Regions from separate parts of the Homo sapiens genome. Here regions 2 and 3 are each linked to region 1. Evidence: fine-mapped expression QTL. A gene starts in region 1. Each other region holds a variant in brackets. All regions are shown on one strand. Distances are between the middles of the regions.

Region 1 (5,000 bases):
CAAATCCATCCAAATCTCTCCATCTGCCAAAACCACAAGCCACAGTCATCTCCTGCCTGGCCAACAGTATTACCAGTCTCCCTGTGTCCACTCTAGTCACTTCCAACACATTAATCCCAGCAATGGGCCTTTAAAAATGTACATCCAATTACATCTCACTCTTTTCGGTACACATCTTACTAAATAAACCCTTCAGAAACTTCTTACTTAGAAAATCAACTCATACTAGGCCTTGAGGGTGCCTCACCATCTGCCCCCACCCACTTCTCCAGCAACTCTGCTTGGCTTCTCACCAAGCTTCTGGGCTTTTCCAATCCTCAAAGCTACTAAACCCCTAACAGCACTTGCTGGTCTCCTCTTAGCCTAGAAAGCAATGTCCCATCATTCTCCAGATTTCAACATAAAAATTACTTCCTGAGACCGGGCGCAGTGGCTCACGCCTGTAATCCTAGCACTTTGGGAGGCCGAGGAGGGTGGATCACCTGAGGTGAGGAGTTCGAGACCAGCCTGGCCAACTTGGCGAAACCCCATCTCTACTAAAAATACAAAAATTAGCTGGGTTTGGTGGCGGGCGCCTGTAATCCCAGCTACTCGGGAGACTGAGGCAGGAGAATCTCTTGAAACCGGGAGGCGGAGCTTGCAGTAAACCGAGATCGCACCACTGCACTCCAACCTGAGCGACAGAGCGAGACTCAGTCTTAAAAAAAAAAAAATCACTTCCCTATCCCAAAGTAATTCCCCTGGTGTTCTTTCAGAGGAACTTGGCTGTTTGTTTTTTCTTCGTAGGACTCCTCACAATTTGTCACTTAAATATTTATCGTTGCATCTGTCTATTGTCAATAAAGCCAAAAAGCCTGTAAATAAACCCTTCCGAAACTTATTTAGAAATCCTGAGGGCAGGGACTGCGTTGTTTTCTTCACGCTTGCATACCTGCATCTAGCACAGTAACTAAAAGTAACCCTTCCTAAAACCTAGGTGATGGGTTGACAGGTGCAGCAAATCACCATGGCACACGTTTACCTATGTAACAAACCGGCATATTCTGCACATGTATCCAGGGACTTAAAATTTTAAAGTAGGCCTTCTAATATCTGATGACATGTGGAAGAACATTGCAAGGTTGATTTTTCATCCAACTATGTCAAGACCACGGATAGAGCCTATAAGCTTGCTACATGCCACAAGGATGTCTAATCTTTACAACCATGCACTGCAATAGACATTATGTAGCCCGTTTTGTAGAGGAGGAAACTGAGTTTCTCAGAGGGTAACATGCCATAGTTCCATCGCAGGTGGACTGACTACAAAGCGTGTGCACCGCCGCCCTATAATGCAAAACCACACTCACTGAAGGAAGATTCAATAAGACAGTCCCTGTAACCTGACGGCTTTCCTTCTGAATGTTCTGGCTGGGATTGGCTGCCTCAAAAACACCATTACACTCTGTTAAAATTGCTACAAAGGCTGTTTGGGAGATAAAATCTAAACAAATGAAATCCTAAAACTGCCAATAATAGCAATAAAGCATCAACAATGCTCACAGTTTTGCAGTATGCATTCACGGGCCATACACAGCCTTTAACAAGGTAATTTTCTTACCCCATTTCACTTGACTACATCTTACCTAGTTAAGCAAACTACCTCTTGTATAGTTATACTACCTCTTATGTAGTTAAGGCAAATAGTATTACTTAATATCAGCTGTATACAGCTGCACTTACACACGAGCTTTCTGACAGGTGAACACCAATCTATCTTATTATTAAAAACAAAACAAAAAAATCAAAAACCTCTCAACAAAATTCCACACATATTAAGGAGTATTTTGAAAGGAAGGAGTCCCTTATACTGACCTCCCCGTACTCAATTTAGTAGAATACGCATTCCAATTTCCTAACGCTGGAGATTAGAGAACTATAAGCTACATATTAAAAGCATTTGTAAAAGGCTATTTTCTCAGCTGTGGTAACAAACACTGGCAGAGTCTTAGGCAAAACACACGCCGTTTCGCCCGAGTTAGCCAGCCACTGAGATCGTTACAGTTGGGAAGCAGCGAGCCCAGCAGCAGGGATTTCACGGACCCGGTATCAGGGTTCTCGGGTCCCAGGGGCCGCGGGCCGCAGAGTGGGAGGAGGACCCGGCAGCTGTGGCCACCCGAGGCCCGGACGGCTCCGCTGTCCCACTCGCCGCGACCCGGACGCTTTGGCAGGACCACGTCTGGGGCGTCCCCGCCGGGGGGCCGGGTCAGAGAGCCTCGCCACTTGAATCACCCGACGAGGCGGACAGCTCTACTCACCTCAGCGCCAGCAGAGCCAGCGCTCCGGAGCGCAAGCGGCGCTGGAAGCCAAGCGGGGGACGGCGGGCGGGGCGGGGCAGGGAGCCAGGCGAGGGCGGGGCGGAGCGCCGGGCGTCGGGGGCGGGGCTCCGGGGGTGGAGCGGAACCCGCGCCAGAGGGAGCTGGGGAAGAGGGAGCGGGAGAGGAGCACGGAACCTCGCGATAATCCCCTGTGTTCTCGCGCTTTCACGATAGGCGCGGGAAAATGCTCGTTTGCCAAGCGATCTGTGTATTGGCCGAGAGCGCTACTTCCTCTATGCTGGCCCCGCCCGCGGCTCTACTCTTGCTTCCGGCTCCGGCGTGGGGTTTGATGTCGACGGAGTGGCTTTTGCTTAGCGTCTTGAAGGGGTAATTTAGTCGGCTCCAACTTCGGGAACCGCCAGTTACTGACCTGTTCCTTCATTCATACATTCATTCAGTCACTCGGCTTCTCATTCAGAGCACACGTTGAGGGATTACAACAATGATCCCACGTTGAGCGTTCGTTCTAAGAGCTGTTTATAGATTATCTCGTTGAACCCTTGACAGCAATCCCATGACACAGGGACTAACAGCGCCAGTCTGACCGTTGAAAAACAGGCCAGTGGGTTTATGTAACGAAGCCAACGTTATTTAGCAAGTAGTGAGTCTAAGCACCGGATTTAAGGGGTCACTACGAACTGGTAGATAACAAAGATGAGGAGGACGTAACCTAGTCTCTGCCCTTCAAACACCCAAGGTTTATTTTGAGTAAAGATTGCTAAAAAGGTCAGGAACAATTTAGAGAGTTAAATACAATGACACTTCCTAGCCTGACTGAGTAGGCCGTCAATATGTATTTCTTCAAGACGAAAATTATTATGTCAGCGAAATAGCATGAAAGAGGGCTTTATGCTGTTAAAAATACTTGGAAGCATAGTTCGGAAACATTTTTAAAAGACACTTTTTAAAGTGTCTCATTAATATGACAAATTTCCTTCTGAAATGAAGATTTTAAAGTATAATCCTCTACTACAACCGCTGATATTTTTTGTTCTGTGGAAAGCCTGTCTATGAGTTTGCGAGGCTCCTTGTCAAGGAACTTTAACTTTATAATGAAGTAGTTTTTACAGTTGCTGACTTAATTATTCATAGAGACGAATAACCTAGAAAGCAGAGTTATATTAAATAAAAAACATTGGTTTTAAAACAAGGTATGAGTTATAATAAAAATTATCAGTTATCTATTAAATCTGGTCTTCAAGAGCTATTCAGGTATACAGCATGGTTGGTATATGTCATGTATTTCTAAGATAGTTTCGGAATACCTAAGAATTCGTGGCACTCAGAAATTTTTTGCTGGTCTTAAAATGAGGAAATCCACATTTTGTGTAAAAACAAAGATACGGTGTTTAATGGTCAGCCCAAATAATAAGACTTGCTGCTAATATATGAAGAGTTACACCCCCCAAAAAAGAAAAAAGATTAACAGTAGAACAGTTTTTTGAAAACAATGTTAGCCTCTTAGTTTTCATTTCTTTTTTTTAATGGGGAATACTGTTTTTCAGTGATTAATATCTGATATTTGATCATGAAAAATGAATCATGTTAAAATAACCTTCACCTCCTCCCCACATTGACACAAAAGTTACCAAGTGATTATATTTGATAATACTTTATGACCCCACTCTTGAAGTTCTCACAATTTGTAGAGAATCAATTCGCACGTTTTGTCTCTCTTAAAGGGGAAAAAAATCCTCTAAGCTGGTGATTTCACGTTCTTTGACAAACTTCAATATCAACAGGCAACGATACCACTTTAAGAAAATTCCAAGGAAAAGACCTCATTTTAAAATTCCCACCTCTGGCTCCCAAAGATTGGTTTGCAAACTTCGACAAAATACTCTTCTCCACTCGCTATTGGTGAGTGCTCTATCATTCATTCTTTTGCCTGGAGTTTTGTGAGGTACCCGCTTGCTTTATGGGAAAAGGCTGCTCCGGAACTGCCCTACTTTAGACTTTTTCATGGTTATCAATCTGTACAAAGAATCACCAAACTGATAAAGCAGGAACCAGAGGGCAAATCACGCTGCCAAGACAACTGTGTAATTCGCTCGAAAAAGAAACGGTGAGCCTCTCCAGCAGACTGGGTAAACTGGCAAGGGATTTTACGACATAGTTGGAGATTGGAGAGTTACAGAAACTTTTCCGGTTTTTTACAAGTTTTAAAGGAGTGATTGAGTGTCAAAGGAAAAGCAGAGAAAATACAGGCACAATTTAAAGACAGCAGGAAGAAGAGTGTTCAGAGAGCATTTTTCTCTTTAGGGTGAAGTTTGAAAGCATCATGCCCAGATTATCAGTGGATTTTTGAAAGGTAAAGGAGGCAAGATAATAAGATTAACTATAGATCATTTTCTACTTTAAGAAACTGTGCTTCGTTATTGTTGCTTAAGTGTGGATTTAGAAGGACATTTAGTAATATTGTAATTTTTATATGGATATTTTTGTTTATATATTGTCATACCTGGCATAATAGATAATATATCTATTAAAAGATATAGGAGAAAATAGAGTTGCTTGAACCCAAATTTTGTGTATATTTGTGGATTAGGGATTCCAGGGACAGATCTGCTAATGGCTGAACAAAACATACTACAGATACCTGAAGCAGAATCAGCATGTAAGGGTAAATTCTCAAAAAAATCC
Region 2 (10,834 bases), 700 kb before region 1:
GCGAGGGTGCTCTTCCTGGCTCTCAGACAGCTGCTGTGTCCTCCCATGGCCTTTCCTCTGAGCACTCTTGGAGAAAGAGTGAAGGAGAGTTCTCGGTGTCCCTTCTCATAAGGATACTAATCCTACGGATGAGGGCCCCACCCTTATGGCCTCATTTAACCCTAATTACCTTGTTATAGGCCCTGTTTCCAAATTCAGTCACACTGGGGGTTAAGGTTCAACATATGAATGGGGGGCAGGGGGACAATTCAGTCTATAGCAGGCAACCTAGCTACTTTGATGGCAGAGGAAGGGAGGTAGCTGCACCAGAATCAGCCTGCACTTTCAGAGTGTGTCAGAGTAGAGACAGTGGGGGGCCATGTACGAGAGACAGCTGATGTGCGGTGGCTTAGGTCCTGTCCAAGGGGACTGTGTGGTGAGGAGACAATAGGAGAATACCAGCTGTGATCCACCAGCGTCCCTGGAGCTGAAGAAGGAGTACTAACCGCAAGTAGAGAAAAGCCCATCTTCTACATCAGCCTGCAGGAGAGAGATGTCAGCAGATAACAGGGTGATGGATGTGTATCTCCAGGCCACCTATGAACGTGCTCTAGGAGGCAAAGTTAGCTCTGAGCACTTGCAAGGCCCAGAGAACAATCATATTTGATAGTCACATCAGTATCTGCCAAGAAGGAACCTTCCTGGTCCCCTTTCCCCTCCACCTGCCCCCAGCCCATGGAAGACAAAGAATTCCCAGGTGGGGAAAGCTCTAACAGGCTTACTGTGGACTCTTCCCCCAGGCAATCTTCCTCCTGAAGCCAGAAGAGAAAGAATAGATTCAACTTTAAACGAAATTCAGAGTTGTATTATGCCACGAAACTGGATAGTTTTATTACTGAATCGAGACCATATTTTGCAACTTAAGTTGACTTGAGAAAGTTGACTGGGAAACTATTTTTATTACCTTGGAGAGACCAAAAAAATTCATGGACCAAAACTTTCATCCAGGGTCAGGGGAAGAACCAGCCCCAAGAATAGATTTATAGAGACAGTGAAGAGGTGGCAAGAACATGCTTCATGGGGACTCCCCCGACCTGGAATTTGTGTGTGTTCAATGCCACAGGTACACATGCTACATGGTTTGCCATCTTAAAATAGGGATAATATAACTTGCCATGGAATATTGCTCTGAACGTTAAACTACATATGTTAATGTCTGCAAGACACCTAGGACAGCACCTGGCACTCAGTAGGTCCAAAGACATGGTAGCCAGTGTGATTGTTGTTGGTGATAGTGTAGCAAGAGCATTAAGAAGTACCTAGAGGTTAGAAGTCTCTGCAACTCCGAGCTTGCTTTGTGTCTTCTCCCTCCAAAGTTGACTCTCATGTTAAGGTCAGTTTCTAGTACTATGGAATTCCAAGGAAGTTCCAAACTGCAAGGAAATCTGACCTCTCTCTCTCCCCCAAGCCCAATACAACATTTGAATTTTATGTGGAAATCTTAAACCTCTCCTTCTCATTTGGTCTCACTTGGAGCTTTGAAAATATAAGATATGCCATATATGGTTTCTCCCCAGACTCATGCCGAACACTAGTCACTGTTTTCCAGAAACCTCAGCATCTGCTCAGCTATCTAGCCCCTGGGATCACTGCGAAATTGGACTAATACCAAGGACCGGTTACCACAGTACGTCATCTACTCATGAATACTGTTAAGTGAGCTTGGTTTCAAGAAACCTTAAACCTTCAATGCATAACTCAATTCAGTCTTTTCTTGGCATTCCAGAACATGATTAATGGTGACGCCATGCCACAAATAAGTTATACATGGCTCAGAACTCTAATTCACAATTGATTAGTCCATGAACAATAGCCCTGAGTAACGTAGTGTTAATGGCCAGCCCCGGTGGTCTGTTCCTACCAGAAACCCATTACTAAGTCCACCCTGTGTTTTACAGCATCCCTACTGGAGCCCAATATCTGCTTATGGGGGCAACTGCTTTGTTTAATGGTTGCTAGCCACGTGCAATTAGCTAGAGTAGAACAGACACTTTAGAGGTTACTGCTTCAGCCTCCTAGTGAGAGGATGGGAAATATGATTTTTTAAAAAGTCAGTTTGCCTTCAAGTGGATCATATTCCCACAGACTGGGAAATAGATGCCTTCACATTGTGCTTTGGATGAGGGCAGGGAGAAAAGGCAACCTGTAACCAGTGATTTCCAAAGGCAGCAGGGGTCACTGGCTGCATGGGCAGGAAGTGAAACTCTTACAGGCCTGCCAGGTGGAATGGAAGGATGTCTGAAACTGTAGGGAAGGAAGATACATCAGACAGTGAGAGGGAATGAATGTGAAGACAGGGGGGACAGGTGGCAATGAAATGTGAATCCACATGAAGAAATAAACAGCACTGATAAAGGTAACTACATAGGTAGATATAAAAGACAGTACAACTGGAATTTTTGTAACTCCTTTTCTCCTATTTGTTTTAAAATAGGAGAAAACTATATGAAACAAGCCTCTGTCAATGGACACATAATGTATAGAAATGTAATTTATAATAAGAGCATAAAAGAAATACACTGTGACCTATATGAGAAAAAAAATCAAGAAACAATCCCACTTAATATCAAGAAACAATCCCACTTAATAATATCTATCAAAAAATAGAAATAATTAAGGAGGGCAAAGATCTATACACTGAAAACTATAAAACATTGATGAAAGAAATTGAGGAAGACTTCAATAAGTGAAAAGATATCCTGTGTTCCTGGATTGGAATAAATAATATTGTTAAAATGTTCATACTACCCAAAGTGACCTATGGATTCAATGCAACTCCCATCAAAATTCCAACGACATTTTTCACAGAAATAGGAAACAATTCTAAAACTCATATGGAACCATAAAAGACCCAAATAGCCCAAGCAGTCTTGAGCAAAAAGAACAAAGCCAGAGGCATCACACTACCTGACTTCAAAATACACTACAAAGGTATAGTAATCAAAAGAGCATGGCACTGGCCCCAAAACAGACATATAAATCAAGGAAGCAGACTAGAGAGCCCCAAAATAAATCTACACATTTGCAATTGATTTTTTCCACAATGATGGCAAAAATACATGATGAGGGGAAGGACAGTGTAAATTAAATGGTGCTGGGAAGACTGGATAGCCACATATGGAAGATTGAAATTAGATCCTTATCTCACACCATATACAAAAATAAAATGCATTAAAAACTTAAATGTAAGACCTGAAAATGTTAAACTATTAGAGGAGAACATAGGGGGAAGTTTGATGACATTGGTCTGGGCAATTATTTTTTGGATATGACCCAAAAAGCACAGGCAAAAAAAGCAAAAATACACATATGGGATTATATAAACTAAAAAGTTTCTACACAGTAAAGAAAACAACCAACCGCATAAAGAGACAATTTACAGGAGAAAATATTTGCAAACCATACATCTGATAATGGTTTAAATCAAAAATATCTGAAGAACTCAAGCAACTCAATAGCAAGAAAACAAATAACCTTATTTGTTTTTAGTGAGCAAAGGACCTGAATACACATTTCTCAAAAGGAGACATACAAATGGCCAACAGATATATGAAAAAATTTGCAACATCACTAAACGTTAGAGAAATGCAAATTAAAACCACAGTGAGATCTCACACTTGTTAGAATAGCTATTATCAAAAAGATGAAAAATAACAAGTGTTGGTAATGTGGAGAAAATGAAACCCTTGTACATAGTTGGTGGGAATGTAAATCAGTACAACCATTACAGAAAACAGTATGAAGGCTTCTTAAAAATAGAACTACCATATGACCCAACAATCCTACCACTGGATATATATACAAAGGAAATCGATATGTCAAAGAGATATCTGCACTTCCATGTGCACAGCAGCATTATTCACAAAGACCATGATAGAGAAACAACCCAAGTGTCCATCAACAGATGAATAAAGTAAATGTGGCTGTGTATACAAAATGGAATACTATTTAACCTTAAAAAGAAGGAAATTCTGTCATTTGCAAAAACATGGATGATCCTGGAAGATATGTTAAGTGAAATAAGCCAAACACAGAAAGACAAATACCACATGATCTCACACATGAAATCTAGGCCAGGTGCTGTGGCTCACGCCTGTAATCCCAGCACTTTGGGAGGCCAAGGAGGGCAGATCACTTGAAATCAGGAGTTCGAGACCAGCCTGGCCAACATGGTGAAACCCTGTCTCTACTAAAAATACAAAAATTAGCCAGGTGTGGTGGTAAGCACCTGTACTCCCGGCTATTAGGGAGGCTGAGGCAGGAGAATTGCTTAAACCTGGGAGGCAGAGATTGCAGTGAGCCAAGATCGTGCCACTGCACTCCAGCCTGGGTGACAGAGCATGACCCTGTCTCAAAAAAAAAAAAAAAAACACTAAAACAGTTGAACTCATAGAAGCAGAGAATATAATGGTGCTTGCCAGGGGCTGGGGTATGGGGTGTTGGGGAGATGTTGGTCAAAGCATGCAAAATTCAGATATACATTAGGAATAAGTTCAAGAGATCTGTTGTACAGCATGGTGACTATAGTTAACAATGTACTGTATATTCAAAAATCACTAAGAACATAGATTTTAAGTGTTTTCACCACAAAAAAATACATGAGGTAATGCATGTTAATTAGCTAAATTTAGCCATTCTACAACGTGTATATATTTCAAATCATGTTATATACCATAAATATTTATAATTTTCAACATAAAATATTAATTCATTTTTAAGAAGTCCTATTGACCAGGCACGGTGGCTCGCTCCTGCAATCCCAACACTTTGGGAGGCCGAAGTGGGTAGATCATGAGGTCAGGAGTTCAAGACCAGCCTGGCCAAAATGGTGAAACCCCATCTCTACTAAAAATACAAAAATTAGCCAGGTGTGGTAGTGGGCGCTACTTGCGAGGCTGAGGCAAAGAATTGCTTGAACCCAGGAGGCGAAGTTTGCAGTGAGCCAAGATCGTGCCACTGCACTCCAGCCTGGGTGACAGAGCAAGACTCCATCTCAAAAAAAAAAAAAAATTCCTATTACAGTAGATATCAAAGGAAAGAGATTTAAAAGAAACTACCAGAGCAATGAGAAAAAATCTATACCCCAATATCATGAAACTCTGTATCATCTATAGACACCCTGCATTTCACTATTACATGAGAGAGAAACTTTGGTGTTAAAAAAAAAAA[AG/G]AAAGAAACTTCTAACCTTACATAGCCTGGCAGAAGTTGAAGAGGTAAGGTTTGCCAAGTCATTATGATAGAGATGGGAAATAGAGGAAGAGATACTTGTGGTTGAAAGTAAAAATAAACTGAGTAAGGAAAACCTGGGCTTGAATCTCAGTCATCCCTTTTTTAAGCATTTATACCTTAGAGAAGGTACTTAACTACACTATCTGCCAATTTCATCATCTATAAAATGAGAATAAATATACCTAACTTTCAGGTTGTTTTAAGAATTACCTATAATGGGCCAGGTGTGGTGGCTTACGCCTGTAATACCAACACTTTGGGAAGCTGAGGCAGGCGGGTCACTTGAGGTCAGTTTGAGACCAGCCTGGCCAACATGGTGAAACCCTGGCTCTATTAAAAATACAAAAATTAGCCAGGCACGGTGGTGGGAGCCTGTAATCTCAGCTACTTGGGAGGCTGAGGCATGAGAATTGCTTGAACCCGGGAGGCAGAGGTTACAGTGAGCTGAGATTGTGCCACTGCACTCCAGCCTGGGCGACAGAGCAAGACAAAAAAAAAAAAAAAAAAAAAAAAAATGTATATATATATATATATATATATATATATATATATATATATAATGACTAGTTGATATAATACATTATTTTTAAAAAGAGCATGAAGATGGAGGAGGGAACAAAGCTATATAGTAACAAAGTTTTTGTATACTATTAAAATTAAGTTGATATTATTACATACTGGATTACTATAAATCAAGACGTTAATGGTAAACTCCCAGGGCAACCACTAAGAAAATAACTCAAAAATATATTGTTAAAGAAAAAACAAGGGAATTGAGATTGTACATAGAAAATATCTTTTTAACAGAAAAGGCAGTAATGATGGAATTGAAGAAGAAAAAGATATAAGACTTAATAGAAAACCAAACAGCAGAATGGCATACATAAATTCTACCCTATCAGTAATTAAATTAAATATAAATGTATTAAACTCTCTAATTAAAAGGCATAGATTGTCAGAATGGATTTAAAATAAAAACATGATCCGACTGTTATCTATGAGAGACTCACTTTAGATTCAAAGACGCATATAGGTTGAAAGAATTAATAAAAGGATAGCAAAAGATGTGCCACACAAACAGTAACCAAAGGAGAGTTGGAGTGGCTATAATTATTTCAGACAAAATTGACTTTCAGTCAAAAATTGTTACTAGAGACAAGGAAATAATTTTATAATGATAAAAGGGTCAATCCATCAAGACAATCTAACAATTACAAACTTATAAAATACAACAGTTGAACAATGTCATCAATCTACTATATTTAACAGATATTTATAGAACTCCACCCAACAATATCAGAATACACATTCTTCTCAAGTGCATAGGGAACATTATCCATATGCTAGGCCATAAAACAAGTCTCAGTAAATTAAAAGGATTCAAATCATACAAAGCATGTTCTCCAACTATAATGGAATTAGAAATCTATAATAGAGAGAAATTTGGGAAATGCACAAATATGTGAAATTAAACAACATACTCCTAAATAACCAATGAATCAAAGGAGAAAGTGTTAGGAAAATTAGAACATACTTTGAGATAAATGAAAATGAAGACACATTCCAAAACTTATTGAATGCACTTAGAACGGTGCTCAAAGAGATATTTTTAGCTACACAAGCTTTCACTTCAAAAAAAGTAAATAACCTACCCTTCAACATTAAGAAACTGGACATGAAGTACAGACTAAACTGAAAGCAAGCATAAGAAATTGAATAATAAAAATAAGCGTGGAAATAGAAAAATGAGAGAAAAAAATCAATGACCATAAAAATTATTTTAAAAAAATCAACACAAATGACAAACTATTAGCTATGTTGCCCAAAAAAGAAAAGAAGACTCAAAGTATTAAAACCAGAAATGAAGATGATATTACTACCAAACTTACAGAAATAAAAAGGATATAAGGGAATATTATGAACTGAATGCCAAAAAATTAGATAATCTAGATGAAGTTGACAAATTTTTAGAAAGGTAAAAATTGCCAAAACTACTTCAAGAAAAAATAGAAAATATGAATCGATTATGACAAGTAAAGAGATTGAGTCAGTAATCAAAACACTTTCAACACACACAGAAAAAGGCTAGGACCAAACGGCTTCACTAGTGAGTTCTACCAAACTATTTATGAGCTAACTAATCTTTGACCAAGTTACCCAAAAATAGAAAATAAGGGAACATTTTTCAACTCATTATATGAGGCCGATATTACCTTGACGCCAAAATCAGACAAAGTCATTAAAAGAAAACTATGGGTCAATATTCCTCATGAGGCTGGGCACAGTGACTCATGCCTGTAATCCCAGCACTTTGGGAGGCCAAGGCAGGAAGATTGCTTGAGGTCAAGAGTTTGAGACAAGCCTGGGCAACATAGCAAGACACCATCGCTACAAAAAAATTTTTTTAATTAGCCAGGTGTAGTGGTACATGTCTGTAGTCCTAGCTATTCTAGAGGCTGAGGTGGGAGGATCCCTTGAGCCCAGGAGTTCAAGGCTGCAGTGAGCTATGATTATGCCACTGCACTCCAGCCTGCATTACAGAATGAGACCCTGTCTCAAAAAAAAAAAAGAAAAAAAGAAAAATGTCCCTATGAGTATAGATTCAAAAGTCCTCAACAAAATAGTAGCAAACAGAATATAGCAGTATATTACAAGAATTAAACACTATGACCAAGTGGGATTTATCCTGGGAATGCAACCTTGGTTCAACATATGAAAAATCAACCAATGTAATTGCTTTAGTTTCCTATGGCTGCTGTAACAAGTTACCATAAATCTGGTGACACAAACTAGATAGCATCTTTAAAACTCTGTTTCTATCATTACATCATCTTCTCTGATTCTGATTTTCCTATATCTTTTCTATAAGTACTCTTGTGATTGCATTAGTTCCACCCAGATAATCCAAGAAAATCTCCCCACCTCAAGAACCTTAACCTAACATCTACAGGTTACTTTTACCACATAAGATAATATATTTATAGGTTCTGAAGATTAGGACTTGGGCCTCTTTGAGTTGTCATTATTCTGCATACCACATATTAATCAGATAATGTTAATTTAATAATATAAGATACCAATAGAAGTGAGAGAAACTAAATATTAACCAAAAAAAGGAGGGGGAAAAGCATAATCATCAACAGATTCAGAAAAAGTACTTGACAAAACACCACACTCTTTCATGATAAAAACACAACACACTAGGAACAGAAGCGAAGTTTTAGAGTAACATCAGCAAGATGACTGACTGAAGACCCTCGCACTCATCCACCCACAAAGACAGCCAAAACAACAAACAAACCACCACTTTTTGATGAAAATAACTAAAGGAGGGCACCAAAGTACATCAAAGGAGTAGCAGAAACCCTGTAGAGCAAAGAAACCCACTATTGCCCCACGGAGAAAGGAAGGAACACAGCTCACCTCTGCCACCCCATTTCCCAGTTGGGATCAACTAAAAACTAGGAGGGACTATTTCCTACAGAGAAAAGGTAAGAACTTCATCAGCCTCCATTATCACCTTGGACACCTGTAGTTCTCACAGGCACTAAGGCCAGCCTAGGGAGTTGCCTGGAGTTCACACAGCTGTGCTCCCCCAAGAGAAGGAGTCAACATTGTGTCCCACTCCAGTGGCCTGGCTACTGTGCTATGACATCTTGGAACCAGAATCACTGCTGGAGTGTGTCCTGCTCCAGGAGTGAGTGATCACAGCACCCTCAGCACCTTTCCATCCCTGAGGCCTTGACACCACTGGGCCATCCCTGCCTGGTGGTCTGCCATCCCTGAGAAGAGCTGCTGCTACACCCTACCCCATGCGGCCATGCTACTGTAGAACTACTTCATCTACCACTCCCAGTTGCTACTGTGCCCTGCCCCTCCAGGCCTGAGCTGAAGTGGCACACTGCATCCTGGGGAAATGCTACATTGGCTGTCTAGAGCATCCATACTCTCCAGGCCAGAACTGAAGTGGCACCCTGCATTCCAGCAAATGGTGCCCTGACTGCCCAGAGCAGCCACACTCCCCAGGCCTCAGCTGAAATGGTGCATCACCTCCGGTGTAATTAATGCCTTGGCCAAGCTAAGCAGTGGCACATCCCAGGGATGAACTGACATGGTCCCCTGTGTCCCAGGGAAATAGGGCAGTGGCTAAGCTGCGACACCCCATCCTACTGGGCAAATAACTGTAGTACCTTGCTTCTCTGGAACTGGACTCACCCCTAGAGTCTGAGCTGCTGAGACATTTCACTCACAAGGAATAGTGCCATTGTCGTACTTCTCCCTGCCTCCCCCTCCCCAACTGGCGCTGTGGACCCAAGTGAAAGCTGAACTCTGCTAATCTGAGATCCTTGTTGCAGCCTCACCTTGCCTTACCGAGCCTCCCATTTCCCACCATCCCAGGGTCCAGAGTCATGACTACATGGTGTTTCATCCCCCCTACGCCTGAGTTGCCATTGTACCCTATTGGCTCTGGTTCCTGAATTGCAGCTGTACCCCTGATGCCCAGGCTCACACCTCCAGAGCTCCCCTTCTTCTATGAAGCTAGGCCAGTGCTATTCCCTAACCCCTAGAGTCGGAGTCACAGCTACAACCCGGCCGCCTGGGTTCAAGCTGCTGGGAGTTGCCTCAGATTATAGACTCTGGCTCTGTGGGCAGTCTGCATGCAACCCTTCCTTCAGAGATTGAACCTGTACCCCAAGACCCAGGTGCCACAGTTCGTTCTCAAGACCCTGAGTCCAGGGCCCAAGCTCCACATTTGCTCTTGTCACCTGTGACCTGGAACCCCACGCTGCTGCAGCTGCTCGTGGGCTGTGTCAGAACATCAAAAGGGGTCCTCTCAGCTAGTCTTCTCATTGTGGGGAAAAGAAAAACAGGAGGACCCCAAAAGCTGTTGCCACCTGGGATCCTAACAACCTACACTGCCACTGCTGCTGCCACATATTGCTATAGCCTAGGCTACTGAGGCACCCAGTCATTGCTGATGTTGATCGTAGCTGAAGCAGCTGCATGGAGGTTATACTACTGTGTCTACTCAGATGCAGAGTAGAACCACCATATTCTTCCCAACTGGTATACTAAGACTTTCCCTGCAAAAACCACTCTGTAAAGTTTGGAAAAGGTAATCATTCCATCAGATGTGCAGACATCAATGCAGGAACACAAGAAACATGAAAAAGCCAGAAAAGGCCAGACATGGTGGCTCATGCCTGTAATCCCAACAAACACATTGAGAGGCTGAGGCAGGAGGATTACTTGAGCCCAGGAGTTTGAATATGTTCCCCATAACTTCCTATGTTACCCACTCTGGGTAACATAGGAAGACCCTATCTCTACAAAAAAAATGTAAAATAAAAAAATTACTCAGGCATGGTGGCACATGCCTGAGATCACAGCCACTCAGAAAGCTGAGGTGGGAGGATTGCTTGAGCCTGAGAGGTTAAGGCTGCAGTGAGCCATGATCATGCACTGCACTCTAGCCTGGGTGACAATGGGACACTGCCCCACTCCCCTCCTCCCCCAAAAAAAGGAAGAAGAAAAAGCCAGGAAACATGATACCACCAAAGGAAC
Region 3 (5,000 bases), 22 kb before region 1:
CATGGAAGACAAATTTTCCACAGACAAGGTTGTGGGGGTGGTTTGGGGATGATTCAAGCGCATTACATTTATTTTGCACTTTATTTCTATTATTATTACATTGTAATACATAATGAAATAATTATACAACTCACCATAATGAAGAATCAGTGGGAACCCTGAGCTTGTTTTCCTGCAACTAGATGGTCCCATCTGGGGGTGACGGGAGACTGTGACAGATCGTCAGGCACTAGATTCTCATAACAAGTGCACAAACTAGATCACTCACATGTGCAGTTCACAATAGGGTTTGTGCTATGAGAATCTAATGCTGCTGCTGATGGGACAGGAGGTGGCATTCAAGCGGTAATGCAAGCCACAGGGAGTGGCTATAAATACAGATGAAGCTTCGCTTGCTTGCCTGCCACTCACCTCCTGCTGTGCGGCCCCGTTCCTAACAGGTACCAGGTCTGTGGCCCAGGGATTGGGGACCCCTGCCTTAGAGAAACCACAAACCTCATAATCCATGGTCATGGAAGAAATAAAAATGTGCTTCACAGACACAGAGAGAGGGAAGAACCAGAAACTGGAGTGATGTAACTGGAAGCTGAGGAACACCGAAGGTTGCCGGCCACTCCCAGCAAGGAGAAACTCAAGGAGCATGTGCTCCCTCAGAGCCCTGAGAAGGAACCAATCCAAATCACACCTTGATTGTGGACTCCCTGCCTCAAGAACTGTCAGAGAATACATTTTTGTTGTTTTAAGTTACCCAGTTTTTGATAATTTGTCACGGCAGCCCTGAAAAACTAATATATCCTCCAAATTCCCAAATCATGCTCCTCGAGAGAAAGTAAGGGAAATCTGCAGGGCCCCCAGGTACAAGACCTGACTAAGCTCCAAATGAACAGGGGAAGCTGGAGCTCATGTGGTCCAAGGGAGTGTCAGACCTGGCCACAGGTCCAGACATCAGAGTAGAGGGCCAGGAAATTGGCCATTGGCAGGAGAAAGAAAGGCAGACAAACCTAGGTCCTTTACCCAGAAGAAGTCAGAGCCCTGAAAGGGCTGGCCTTTCCATGAAAAGAATCCTAGAACAAAAGTCTACTCACAGGTTGAAAGCAGGCTTCTCTCTGCTGGAGGTACTGGGTAGTGGAGAAAGCCTCCTGTAAATAACTGAAAGCCAGTCTGCATACGCACACACACAAGTATATAGGCATATATATACATATAATATCTCTCTCTCTTTCTCTCACACACACATAGGGGGTTCAAATTTACACATACGAAAAGAAAGAGTCGAAAGGCTGAAGGAGCACACTGAGTCAAAACTAATTTTTTTTTCATTTACATTCAAGCTACTATAGGGTAAACTGTGTATCAATAATAATGAATCAGGAATGGCTTTTTAGAAGACATTAGGTCTGACCCGAGTTCCAAAAGACATAAATTATAAGAGGATGACATGGAATGGAGAGGAGAGTAGTTCTGTATAGCTTTCTAAGCACAAGAAGCAACATATGAAAAGCCAAAAGAGAACAAGTACAATTGGGAAACTGCAAATACAATCCATTCTGCTATAACTACATAACAGCACTCCCGAAGAAATCTTACATTTTCAAAAATCCTGTTAGAAAAACAATCATGTCAATAGAAAAACTAACGTGTTAGGTACTAGAAAGTTGACTATTTTAAATAACCAAGAAATTTTTCATAAACTTGAATTTTTAAAAATAAGCATGTGTCTTTTATAATTGAAAAAATTAAAATTGAATTTTAAGATCTGCTGTGTGCAGCATAAGCTGTTATACAATTGATTAATCAGTTATATACAATTTGAGATCTAAACACTCACTAAGACAAATGACATTAGTTTGGTATGTCTGGGCCATTAGGTATGAAGATGTGAGATTTTACAGAGAATGGCAAGGAACAGAACACTAAAGGCTTATATTTTATACTAAGGACTAGCTTTTAAAAAATCCTGAACACAATGGAAAATCACTGGTTTATTTTAAACCAGAAAATGTCATTATTAATGTCATACTGGCATACTGATGTATTTAAATACTTAGCAACAGTATCACAAACTGCTTATATATACATATCCTTCCCTTTTGTGATAACCAAGTATCATTGAATATGAATATTGTTATGAAGTCAAGGAAGCATTTTTGAATACTCACTCTTGACAGTACCATTTGTATTTCATTTTCAAATGCTGAAAGCTGTGATTCTTTTTGCCCCATATTTCTATACTGATATATGCAACAAGATCCATCATAACTAGTCATTTCTCAGATGTTCCTTGTGGATCCGTCTAAATCCCTGGAATGTTTTGTTTTTATTATCAGTATCTCCCTTGAGAATATACGCTTCCGTTTATGGGCATACATACAAAGCATCCTAGAAAAACTAGGGAACCAGTGGGTGGAGGGCCTTAATTATAGCTGTTCCTATAAAAAGGAAAGATTTGTCCAAAAAGAAATGCTGTTTGACTGTTAGACCTTCACCTAGTTTCATCTGCTAATACCAATACTATATCTGGCTAATTCACACACTCCACGGTCATTCTTTCTGGATGTCTACTTGGCTCCATCAAATAGCATTCTAATCTTTCCATGACAAACTAGTTAGTTCTTTTGAGGTGTAGCTCTACACACAATTAAGCACTGAAATAATGCTTCTGTTGCCAATAGAGCATCTCTATGTCTTTATTAACAAGTAGATACATTGTGTTTTTATTTAAAAATAAGCACATTCACTTTGAGAAAATTGCAGTTCATTAGAATAACGCCTTAAAACACACAGACACGGCCGGGCACGGTGGCTCACGCCTGTAATCTCAGCACTTTGGGAGGCCGAGG[C/A]GGGCAGATCACGAGGTCAGCAGATCAAGACCATCCTGTCTAACACGGTGAAACCCTGTCTCTACTAAAAAATACAAAAAATTAGCCGGGCGTGGTGGTGAGTGCCTGTAGTCCCAGCTACTCAGGAGGCTGAGGCAGGAAAATGGCCTGAACCCGGGAGGCAGAGCTTGCAGTGAGCCAAGATCGCGCCACTGCACTCCAGCCTGGGTGACAGAGTGAGACTCCATCTCAAAAAACAAAAACAAACAAAAAAAAACACACCACACACTTAGGAATAGATGCCCAAAACTCCTGGCAAGTAATCAGCCCTTGCACAGGCTGTGACTGACACCTACTGGTGTTCCATAATATCACTCTCTGTTTTCTAATGCCATATTTTTAGCAATGTAGCTGAGAAATGTTATACGTTTTAATTTTTACACTTCTATAATTTAGGTACAGCATATAAGAGACTAGACAACTAGAAATTAATGTCAGAATTTTTGTTACTTTGTGGGTAACTAAGCTCTAATGTTGGATTACAGAAGCCACACAAACTAGTGTATCCTAATCCATAGGATTTACAAGCTATGAAGTTTTTTAATGTTTTTAAATTTAAAATCCTGATAAAAGCAATAGTCTTAAAGTGCTTCTCAAATCTATTATTACCTTCTTTTTTCACAATTTGAAACAGAAAAGTTTATCAGATAAACATAACATGTACTCAGATACCTCCTACTAAATTACCTAGAAATTGTTTCTCTAAATCAAGCCAAGGATTCTCTTCATTAAATCTCATTTACATTATTATCTAGCTAAACAACTTTTCTTTACAATAATGAAAAAGTAAACTTCAGCAAGCACAGTTAGTATAAAACTTACCCCAAATTCTGAATCAATGATGCTTTACCATATTCTTTTAGACTCCACTTAAATGGGAATGTTTTAAAATTTTTTAACTTGGAACAAATACGTCAAATATTTTGCAAACACCACCATGTTCAATAGTATTTTCTGGTGGGCACTGTGCATTACCTACTTTCTTTCCTTCTCTTTCCGAACACCTGCTAGGACTGCACATCTTTCATCAAGCTGGCCATGGCTAAGTGACTAGCTTGGTCAGTGAAATTAAGCCAAAGAGGAAGCCTTGACAAGATTGAGTGCAAAAGACCTCACCCCTTCCACAGTGACCACCAGACGGTGGACGTTTTGTCAGCTTCATTCCTGGGCAGAGGCTCCAGGCTCTGAGAGACTAGTACAGTGTAGACAAGAAATATGTGTGCTGTTACAAGCCACTAGGACTCAGGGTTTGGCAAAACCTGCTCCATCCTGGCTTCTAACAACACATTTCAAAGAAGTCACAGATTAAATGCATTTGGGTTGTTATACAAGCTATAAAAAGCAGAAGAAAGCAGAATGAATTTGGACCACTATCTCATACCATATACAAAAATTAACTCAAAATGGATCAACAACTTAAATTTAAGAGCTAAAACCACACTTCATAGAAGAAAACATAGGAGTAAATCTCCATAATCTTAGATTTGGCAATGAATTCATAGCTATTACATCAAAAGCATGAGCAGCAACAGAAAAATAGATACACTGGCCAGGTGCAGTGGCTCAAGCCTGTAATCTCAACATTTTGGGAGGCCAAAGTGGGTGGATCATTTGAAGTCAAGAGTTCGAGACCAGCCCGACCAACATGGTCAAACCTCATCTCTACTAAAAATACAAAAAAATTAGCCGGGCGTGGTGGCATGCGCCTATAGTACCAGCTACTCTGGAGGCTGAGGCAAGAGAATCCCTTGAACCCAGGAGGGGGAGGTTGCAGTGAGCTGAGATCACGCCACTGTACTCCAGCTTGGGCAACAGAGTGAGACTCCATCTCTAAATAAATATATAAATAAATAAATAAAAGAAAAATAGGGCTGGATGCGGTGGCTCACGCCTGTAATTCCAGCACTTTGAGAGGCTGAGGCAAGTGGATCATGAGGTCAAGGGATGGAGACCATCCTGGCCAACATGGTGAAACCCCATGTCTACTAAAAATATAAACATTAGCTGGGCATGGTGGCACACACCTGTAGTCCTAGCTATTTGGGAGGCTGAGGCAGGAGAATCGCTTGAACCCAGGAGGCAGAGGTTGCAGTGAGCCAAGATGGTGCCACTGCACTCCAG

Direction of the effects. Positions count from the first base shown, and alleles are read on the strand shown. Sizes are in standard deviations (SD) of each study's normalised expression. Not every link is listed here.
With allele C in place of A in region 3, the expression in whole blood of the gene that starts at base 2,358 in region 1 is higher (small effect, 0.32 SD a copy in GTEx).

Evidence for each region. PIP is the estimated chance that this variant, and not a neighbour inherited with it, causes the effect. A credible set is the group of variants that fine-mapping cannot tell apart.
Region 2: its variant is the best candidate, but not a certain one, in a credible set for the expression of LRRC28 in whole blood (INTERVAL, PIP 0.67).
Region 3: its variant is the best candidate, but not a certain one, in a credible set for the expression of LRRC28 in whole blood (GTEx, PIP 0.56).

What each region holds. Positions count from the first base shown.
Region 1 is chr15:99,248,839-99,253,838 of GRCh38, reverse strand. It overlaps LRRC28 (leucine rich repeat containing 28), which reads right to left and starts at 2,358. Exons shown (of 10, transcript NM_144598.5): 1 at 2,298-2,358. It overlaps TTC23 (tetratricopeptide repeat domain 23), which reads left to right and starts at 4,258. Exons shown (of 14, transcript NM_001288615.3): 1 at 4,258-4,668. RefSeq lists a silencer at 2,044-2,583 and an enhancer at 2,834-2,883.
Region 2 is chr15:99,942,514-99,953,347 of GRCh38, reverse strand. No RefSeq gene overlaps it. Among named protein-coding and RNA genes, the nearest start is that of LYSMD4, 210 kb to the right of the region's middle. The variant AG/G (reference allele first, on the strand shown) is at 5,209.
Region 3 is chr15:99,271,325-99,276,324 of GRCh38, reverse strand. The region is part of intron 2 of LRRC28 (leucine rich repeat containing 28); the gene reads right to left. Among named protein-coding and RNA genes, the nearest start is that of LRRC28, 22 kb to the right of the region's middle. The variant C/A (reference allele first, on the strand shown) is at 2,841.